Regions from separate parts of the Homo sapiens genome. Here region 2 is linked to region 1. Evidence: fine-mapped expression QTL. A gene starts in region 1. The other region holds a variant in brackets. All regions are shown on one strand. Distances are from middle to middle. Region 1 holds the start of PARAIL (palmitic acid regulated anti-inflammatory lncRNA). Region 2 overlaps PARAIL (palmitic acid regulated anti-inflammatory lncRNA).

Region 1 (4,396 bases):
GACAGTGAGAGACAATGAAGAAAAGCCACAGGCAGGTGAAAATCCAGTAACTTTGGCAGGGCGGAAGCTGAGGAATTTATCTGATGCTGGATACTCACAGCTTCTGGCCAATCAGGCATCGGGGATGACGTATTTTCACATTAGATATAGGAGGAGGAGAAGAGAATGTTGTAATCATGGATGTTAACTCACTAAGAACTGAATGCTGGGCCTAGTTAAATCCCTGTAGGAAGTAAAATACACAAGACTAGTGACCCATTGACTAATACACAGTCACAGGTCTATGGCACGCGGTTGTAATGTTCTTCTGAAAACAGAAACTAATGCTAACCTTCCCTTAAAACCTGTACAAACCAATAAGTGAAAGCCATTTACAATTTCTGGCCATTTAACAGTCTTTTGGTTCAATTTATTGTGGCAAAAATAGCACACATTTCCTCTACTTAATCTTCCCTGTGAGAGAAACTGAGACTGGGAGAAACTGAACTGCTAGTATTGAGTTTGATATAAAACGTTCCTGACAACACATAATAAACCAAAACCAAAATAAAAACAATAAGAAGCAAAACATCCTTGATTCTAAAGCAGTGCGGTCCAATAAACATATAATGTGAACACCACCACATACAATTTAAAATTTTCTCGTGGCCACATAAAGTAAAAAGAAACACATAAAATGAATTTTAATCTTATATTTAACCCAAGATATCAAAAATGTTATTTCAGCATATAATCAATAAACAAATAATAAAATATTATAAGTTCTTTTTTTAATAAATACTAAGCATTCGAACTCTGGTATTTTACACTTAGGTCACACTTCAATTCGGACGGGCACATTTCAAGTGCTCAATAGCCACCTGTGGCTAAGAGCTACCTACTGGACAGTGCAGCCCTACAGCCCAATTTCAAAAATAAGGAAAAAACAAAGCAAACAAAACCCACACCCACTATATATAAACACACATCAATTTCAGTAAACCCAGCGTTTAGAGTTAGGCAGTGATTGCTGATTTTTGGAGTACGGAGCCAGAACGCCTAGGAGTAAGAGGGAAGGAGAGAAAGGGTAATGGAGAGATGTGTGGAGGAATGCAACTGCTGCATCTCCAGAGAAGCCTGTGCTCCCTACGGTGCCAGAGCTTGAAGGGTGGGTGCTCCCTATCTCCCAAGCTTGAAGGGCTCCCTAGAGGTGACGAGGTGAGGCCGGCCCCAAGCGGTCACTGCCATTTGGGCTCTAGAGCCCGCTTGTCAGGGGGCTTGAGGGGATGCAGGAGTTGAGGGCTCTTCCAGGGAACCCCAGTGACTGCCTACCTGTCGAGCAGCGGAGTGTGGATGTGCAGGTGCTTCACGGCCACCTGGACGCGCCAGTCTGCGTGGCGGGCGGACGACACAGTGCCAGAGGCGCCGCGGCTCAGGTAGCGCAGGTCGGCGAGTTTGTGGTAGGGAATGGTGGGCAGGGCGCTGCAGATGGCCTCCCCGTTCATGGTCCCGGGCGCTCAGGCCGGTTCCGGGTGTGCCCCCTGCTGCGGCGGCTCCCAAGGCTCCCACGCCGCGCTCAGGCGCCCAGATACGCCCCTGCACGAGCGAGGCCGGCAAGACCCTTTTTGCCCCGCAACACTAGGTCACGAGGGCGCCCATTCCCCGGATGGCCCACGCCAGCCGCTGCTTCTCCGAACCAGAGCTGACTTCTTTTCTAGAGACTGGTGCCAACGCCGTAGCGCCGCGAAAGAGCTTCCTCTCTCGCAGCCCCGGCCCTCCCCCCGGCGCGCGCAGCGACCAGCTCCGGCCGCCCGAGCTCCTCCCTCCCCAAACTTCGCAGGTTACGTCAGCGGCGGACGGCAAGGCGGGGAGAGGGGCAGCCCGCTCGCGGCCCTCCCGCCTGGCTCTCGCCTCGGCCTGCGGCCGGGATCCTCCGCCCGGGTCGCGCAGCGGAGGCCGAGGGCTGGGACGGGCGGCTGGGAAGTGGGAAAGGGAGCTCCTTTTGTCTTCTCTTCCCATCCCCCAGGTTTGGGAAAGTTTTCCTTTTGGGAAAGCCCCTCTCTTCAGCCTGCTGGCGGGTGTCGGATTGGTTAGCGACCACCGGCCCCCGCCTCCCCCAACAGGATTCTCCTTTGGGCCACAGGTCTTCCGGAAGTTGCCAAACCCCGGTAGCGGCAGCGTCCGGCTGGGGGCTTTATTAGGGGGCACCGGGGTCTGCTTTCCGACTCCCTTCCGACTCCGCGCCTGCGCAGGAAGCGATTTGGGGAGTGTTGTGAATTCCGAGGGCTCCACACTTAAGAGGTTGTACACTCACCTGTCTACCTGGACTCCAATTTCCATATTTCCAGCCACTTGAGGACTGAGAGGTGGATGATAAACCCTGTCATAGTGGAGCAAGTTCAGGTGTTTAACCGCTGTTATGGGGGATCTGCCTTTTCTCCCTCTTCTTTCTTACTTCCATAAGTATGTATGTGCAGAGATTGAAAAATAACCTTGAGAGAGTCCATCCATCTAACTCCAGGTAAGACTGCAAATATTTCTTTCTTATAAATCTGGGAGGAATGCAGTCAGTGTTTCATGCCAACCAAAAAAGACTGCAAACGTTTTTCCATCCTTCTGCCTTGAATACCTTTCTACTTAGATGACTATTTTGTAAGACGTGAGTGCAAATGTTATATACAATACCAACTCCATACTAGATGTTTAATTAATTCTAGGGATTCAGTAATAAGGAATGACTCGAACAGATTTCTGCCTACAGACAGCTAATGCTTCTTGTATTTTTGCATTACCTGAAATGAAAGTAGCAATGTTAGATTTTACAGTAGTGGGAGGTTGTAAACAATAGTATGTTAAACATTTTTGATCATTTATAATAAAATGTTCAGCACTAAACATATGGTCTGATACTCTGTGCTTTATTGCTTAATAAGCTTTTTTTTTTCTTTTCGAGAGGGAGTCGTGCTCTGTCACCCAGGCTGGAGTGTAGTGGCGCGATCTCTGCTCTGCTCATTGCAACCTCTGCCTCCCTGGTTCAAGCAATTCTTCTGCCTCAGCCTCCCAAGTAGCTTGGATTACAGGCGCCCGCCACCACACCCAGCTAATTTTTGTATTTTTAGTAGAGACGGGGTTTCACCGTGTTGGCCAAGCTGGTCTCGAACTCCTGACCTCGTGATCCGCCCACCTTGTCCTCCCAAAGTGCTGGGATTACAGGCGTGAGCCACCGCGCCCGGCCAATAAGCTTTTTTCTTAAAAAGTACTCAGAAGACTTTTCTATCCATTCATTCTGTTAACGCGCGTCAGTGTGAAGAGACCACCAAACAGGCTTTGGGTGAGCAATAAAGCTTTTAATCATGTGGGTGTAGGCCGACTTAGTTCGAAAAAGGAGTCAGCAAAGGGAGATAGGGGTGAGGCAGTCTTTATAGGATTTGGGTAGGTAGTGGAAAATTACAGTTAAAGGGGGTTTTTCTCTTGCGGGCAGGGGTGGGGGTCACAAGGTGCTCAGTGGGGAGCTCCTGAGACTCATTGTCCAGGAGAAGGAGTGTCACAAGGTCCATTGATCAGTTAGGGAAGGGCAGGAACAAATCGCAATCGTGGAATGTCATCAGTTAAGGTAGGAACTGGCTATTTTCACTTTTGTGGTTCTTCAGTGGCTTCAGGCCATCTGGATGTATACGTGCAGGTCACAGGGTATATGATGGCTTAGCTTGGGCTCAGAGGCCTGACATGTTTATCCAGTCAATTAATTAAAAACCTGAGTCCTAGAAAAAGAGAACAAAAAATAAACAGGGAAGAAATGATCAAAATAATAATTTAAAAATTTTTGCTAGGGCAGGAGTCTTCATATTTAAAGGGCCCACCAAGTAAAAAGACCTACATTAAGGCACATACATCATTAAAAGGGTGAGAACACTAACACTAAAGGGAAGATTCTAAACGTTTTCAGAGGGCGGAAACAAAAATTAAAGAGATGGGAATTAGAATGGCATTGAATTTCTTAACAATGTTACTAAGTCATTGTTATCCTGAAATATAATGAAGTGAAATTTTTCCAATATTCTGAAGGACAGTAACTTCCAACTTAGAATTCTATAGTCAAACTTTCCGTCAAATGTAAGGGCAGAATAAAAACATTTTCACATATACAAGAATGAAATACTTTCTTTCCATGTCATTTTTTTTTTTTAAAGAAAGCTCCTAGAGAATGTGTTCAGCAAAACATGGGAGTAGCCCAAGAAAAAGAAAGACATGAGATCCAGAAAACCGGACCAGGAAATTAAGAAGGGAAACTCCAGGATGAGAGAAATATGGCAGAATTGGAGAGCAACCCATTTTCACTGAACAGGGAGATGGCAGACTTCAAGAGAAAACAGTAGTTACAGTAATTGAAATGATAGATTATCTAATTTTGAGTATT
Region 2 (4,396 bases), 30 kb after region 1:
GCCGAGATCGCGCCACTGCACTCCAGCGCGCCACAGCACTCCAGCCTGGGCGACAGAGCGAGACTCCGTCTCAAAAAAAAAAAAAAAAAAAGGCAACACACACACACACACACACACACACACACACACTTCTTAAGAAGTGACTGTGAAAGGAGGTTATAAGTTCAGTAACCTTTTTAACATCCTGTTTTGGGCAGATACAGTTGTAGAAGAAGGCGGAGCTGTTCTTATTGTAGTAGCCTGTGTAATCTAGGTCATCACAGGGCGGGCTGGTGCAATTCTCTGGAAGGGGGAACTATGACTGCATCAGGGATCCAACGTCAGCAGCTGAACATGACAAAACTGTGGAGTTTATTGGGACATAAAGAGCACTCAGGAACCTTCTTTGGCTCAATTTTAATAGTTGTCAAACAGAATAGAAATGTCTGCCCTTCCAGGGCAGCCATTTTTGTACAACTCCAGTGGGGATGTTGTTCACAGTGGGGAGGTATCATTCACATGGAATACATGATCATTGGGGCCCCTGAAGTTGTGCAATGTGGAGGTACTATGGTCTATTTATCTTCCAAGATTGTTCTGAGAGGCTCAAGTTACACAATGAATATATAAGGACTTTATAAGCCTGTCAATATTCGTAAATAATGACAATAATAAGTGTTGTTTTCTGGCCAATTCTGCCCTTTGAGCAAAGCTTTCTTATCTAGTTTGCACTACTGGCTAAGACTTGGCTTAGCACTCACAGTGAAGCTGTGGAGTTCTCTTTCTGAATATATACATTTTCACAGAACACAAACTTCACACATGATCTCTTTGTGACTATAATGGAGCAAGATGGAAATTAGACTACTTCATGATCATTTCAGAACAGAGAAAAATAAGAACACTGTCCAATCCATGAAAATGAGTGAACATTCCCCTTTCCTGGCTAATAATGAATAACTGCTGATTCTTTCCAATTATAGCATTAGCTTACTTCATTCCTTTCAATGTTTAGATAAGAATAATTAAGATACCTAATCAGGGAATTCCCCCTGTTTCTGTACAACATCCAGTCCAGGGAAGATCCCCATTTTCTTGAAAGCTCCCCCGAATCACCTACCACAAACTCAAATCCTGTAAGTTTTTTCTAACACCTTCTTACTGATATGCTCAAGGGTCTCCCATGGTATTTGTTTCTCCCCCTTGCAATGAATTAATAAACCCAGTTTTATAGAACTGCAGATGTGTTGCTGGTGGTCTTTGACTAGAGGACATTGACAAATTCATACAGTAGTTATTACTCAGCCAGGAGCCCTCTCTCTATCTCAGTCAGAGAGGTGGCTCCTCTGACTTCTCTAAGGATTTTGTCTATGGCATTGGTGCTGTTTCAGAGCCCATAGCTGGACATGTAAACATCAGAACCAAATAACATAAATTTCCAGTTTTATTTATTTTAATATGTTTTAGAGACGGTGTCTCACTCTGTCACTCAGGTTGGAGTGCAGTGGCTCAGACATGGCCCACTGCAGCCTGGACCGCTCAAGGCTCAGGTAATCCTCCCACCGCAGCACCCCAAATAGCTGGGACTACAGGCATGCACCACCACATCTGGCCAATTTTTGTATTTTTTATAGAGACAAGTTTTCACCATATCACCCAGGCTGGTCTTAAACTCCTGAGCTCAGGCAATCCGCCCACCTCGGCCTCCTAAATTGCTGGGTTTTACAGGTATGAGCCACCTTGCCAGGTTTGCAGTTTTCTTTAGATTTGCTTTGTGATAAGGTGGTAAACTTGTTAGAATAAAGGGATTATGTAAATTTCTATTTAGTGAGTAATCAAATGGTACACACATCTAAATTAAATGTCTAAGATAGCTTAGTTATTAAGCAGCTTACATGGAAGACAGCAGAGTATACATATGTATATCTACACAAATATTTAACAGAAACACTGTAAAGAGATTCAGTAATATTCATGCTAAAATGAGAAGAAGACTAGGGAGGTAGTGAATGAAGAATCAAATCAGTAGTATTTTGTAGGGAATAAATTATCGAGGAAAATTTATGGAAAGAGAAGATCTGAAGGTGCAGTTTAAACGAGATGACTATTTTTGCTACCACAGACAACAAAAAGTTTTTCCAGAGTCTGGATGGTACATTTTTAATGTATGGTCATGGTTAATCATGTGTGCATCCTCTTATACTCTGGGGCAATAAAATGTTTTAATAGGTGAGTACCATAATATGAATTAGTAATTTTGTATTCATAACTTGTAGGCAGATGTGCAAAGGCTCTAAAAATCTGCATAA[T/C]GTATGCCTAACCTAAATCACACATATAAAAACATGTTAACAGGATTGTGCTTGGTTTTAAGTTCAGTTTCTATTTTAGTATTCACATTGCTCATCCTTGCTGAAACTCACTTTTCTCATTTATAAGAGTTATAGGAGGAGTGAATACGATAATGCATGTGGAACTGCTTCATGAACTGTGGTACATTAATTAATTTTAGTTTTGGATCCTGGCTCTGCTCTAAGGTTTTCTCTTTTCCAGCTTAGTGTTGTTTTGAGGGTGAACACTGTGCTAGGCATATGCAGAAAAAGTAGCAATTATTCTACCTTTAGATGTTTTGCTATTAACATAGTTTCTAAAATTACTCATCTGTGGGGTGTTCAATAAATATTTCTCTACTGACTAACATATGACAGGCAGATCAGTTAATTGGATGTAATACTTTCATTCATACAGTGTAGCATGTGATCTTATACATGGAAATTGGCAAAATGTGCCAGAGTTACCAAACTGGCTTTCAGGATCTAGTTGTGACAGTCAGTTTTGGTTTATTATCTCTCCTGTATTTGCTGTGACTTGTACCTGTTTATATAATCTCATGTATAACATCAAATCTCTTAGCAAGAATTTAACACTGACTTTGAATGCAGTTAAATCTCAACCTGATTAAGGATTGTTTTCTAATACAACTCTTTCCCTAAACCTCAAAACATTTAGAGAATTCTAAGGGTCTTCTTTTGCCTCAGTTACCACTCATAGCACTAATGCAATGGGTTGGCTGCTTTGGCATTATGGGATGCTTGTTTTGACTATTGAGGTTTTGAATATTACAAATATAGTGAAACAATAGTGAAGCACAGATTGCCCAGAAAGGGTAAAGTTTCAACATCTTCCCACAAAAACAATGATTGAGTCTTTTCATTAGTTAGCTCCTAAAAAATCAGCATAAAACTAGATAATAATAGGATACCTGCTGATCTGTGAGATAAAAACATTCTTTTAAATTGCATGCCAATTTGAAAAGATAAATATTGATGCCAATGTACTGGTGATGAAGTGGGGGCCTGGGGTGTGGGGATGAGACCAGCTGGCAGACATTGGCTAAGCCAGACCCTGGGCTGAGTTGGATTGCATAGGCCTTGTGACTCTATTATTAAACACAGATCCTGAGGGTGAATGACAGCATCTGTGAGATTTTTGAGTCAGTTCTGAAGTAGGTTCTCAGCCAAGTTAGGCAGACATAGAAAAGTAATTATAAAATGCCTAGGCACCAGCCCCACCTAGAGTTGATGCTTAGAATGAGGTAGATAGTAGCAGAAGGAGCAGTTTTTTAAGCCAGTGAGCTTTACAGTGGGGGAAGGGGCAGAATGGGGAAGTCCTTTATTCTGAGCTCTTAAGCATGCCAGGAGCAGATGCCTGATTTTACTGTGTGGCACTTTGTGGCCCAGAAACTTTCCAGATTCTGTATTTTCCTATCTGGTTAAATGTAACTGTATTTACCTGTGTTTCAAAGCCTGAATGCTTTATTTATTCTCTACTTAATTTTCTTTTCCAGTTTTTCCTAACAAGCTTCCCTAGATTTACTTGTTCTCACTTCCTAGACGCTATTTGTATTCTTCCTTCTTCTCTAGTTCATTGGAAATTTCTGCTTCTTTGAGACTGAGGTTATATTCCACTTCTTCTGACTACACCACCACCATCAATCTCCTTCTCTGAACTCTTGGATCATTACTTCAACCTGAAACAACTCATCAGGTATCTATAAAGGTGGTTATTTGAGTTCCTGTTTTTAGGATTCCAAAATGATGCCAAGATATGTAAAATGAAATGTTAATTGCATTTTTTTTGAGGGGGTTAGAACTATGTAAGTCCCAAAAGAGACAAAGAGTTTAGCTCAAAGCTATCAGATGTTGGAATCAGAAGTTTGGCTTAGGTTAATAAAATGTTTTGCTGTTTAATTTACAAAATTTTTCAAGATCAGGTCCCTGGAGGGAAAATAGCAAAAGGAATTCCTGATAGAGAAAAGTTGCAAACCACTAATTGTGTATAGATTTGGTATTTTGTTATGTGTAGTAAAGTGGTTGAGAGTATGATCTTTGAAGTCAGGCAGACCTGGGTTTGCCACTTT

Evidence for each region. PIP is the estimated chance that this variant, and not a neighbour inherited with it, causes the effect.
Region 2: its variant is fine-mapped to the expression of PARAIL in whole blood (TOPMed, PIP above 0.99).

What each region holds. Positions count from the first base shown.
Region 1 is chr8:89,755,149-89,759,544 of GRCh38, reverse strand. It overlaps PARAIL (palmitic acid regulated anti-inflammatory lncRNA), which reads left to right and starts at 1,834. Exons shown (of 5, transcript NR_125822.1): 1 at 1,834-2,500. It overlaps RIPK2 (receptor interacting serine/threonine kinase 2), which reads right to left and starts at 1,729. Exons shown (of 11, transcript NM_003821.6): 1 at 1,312-1,729. The coding sequence starts at 1,484. RefSeq lists an enhancer at 1,254-1,323 and a silencer at 1,864-1,983.
Region 2 is chr8:89,725,145-89,729,540 of GRCh38, reverse strand. It overlaps PARAIL (palmitic acid regulated anti-inflammatory lncRNA), which reads left to right. Exons shown (of 5, transcript NR_125822.1): 2 at 3,900-4,023. Among named protein-coding and RNA genes, the nearest start is that of PARAIL, 30 kb to the left of the region's middle. RefSeq lists a silencer at 39-88 and enhancers at 3,433-3,532, 3,583-3,632, 3,663-3,712, 3,288-3,837. The variant T/C (reference allele first, on the strand shown) is at 2,289.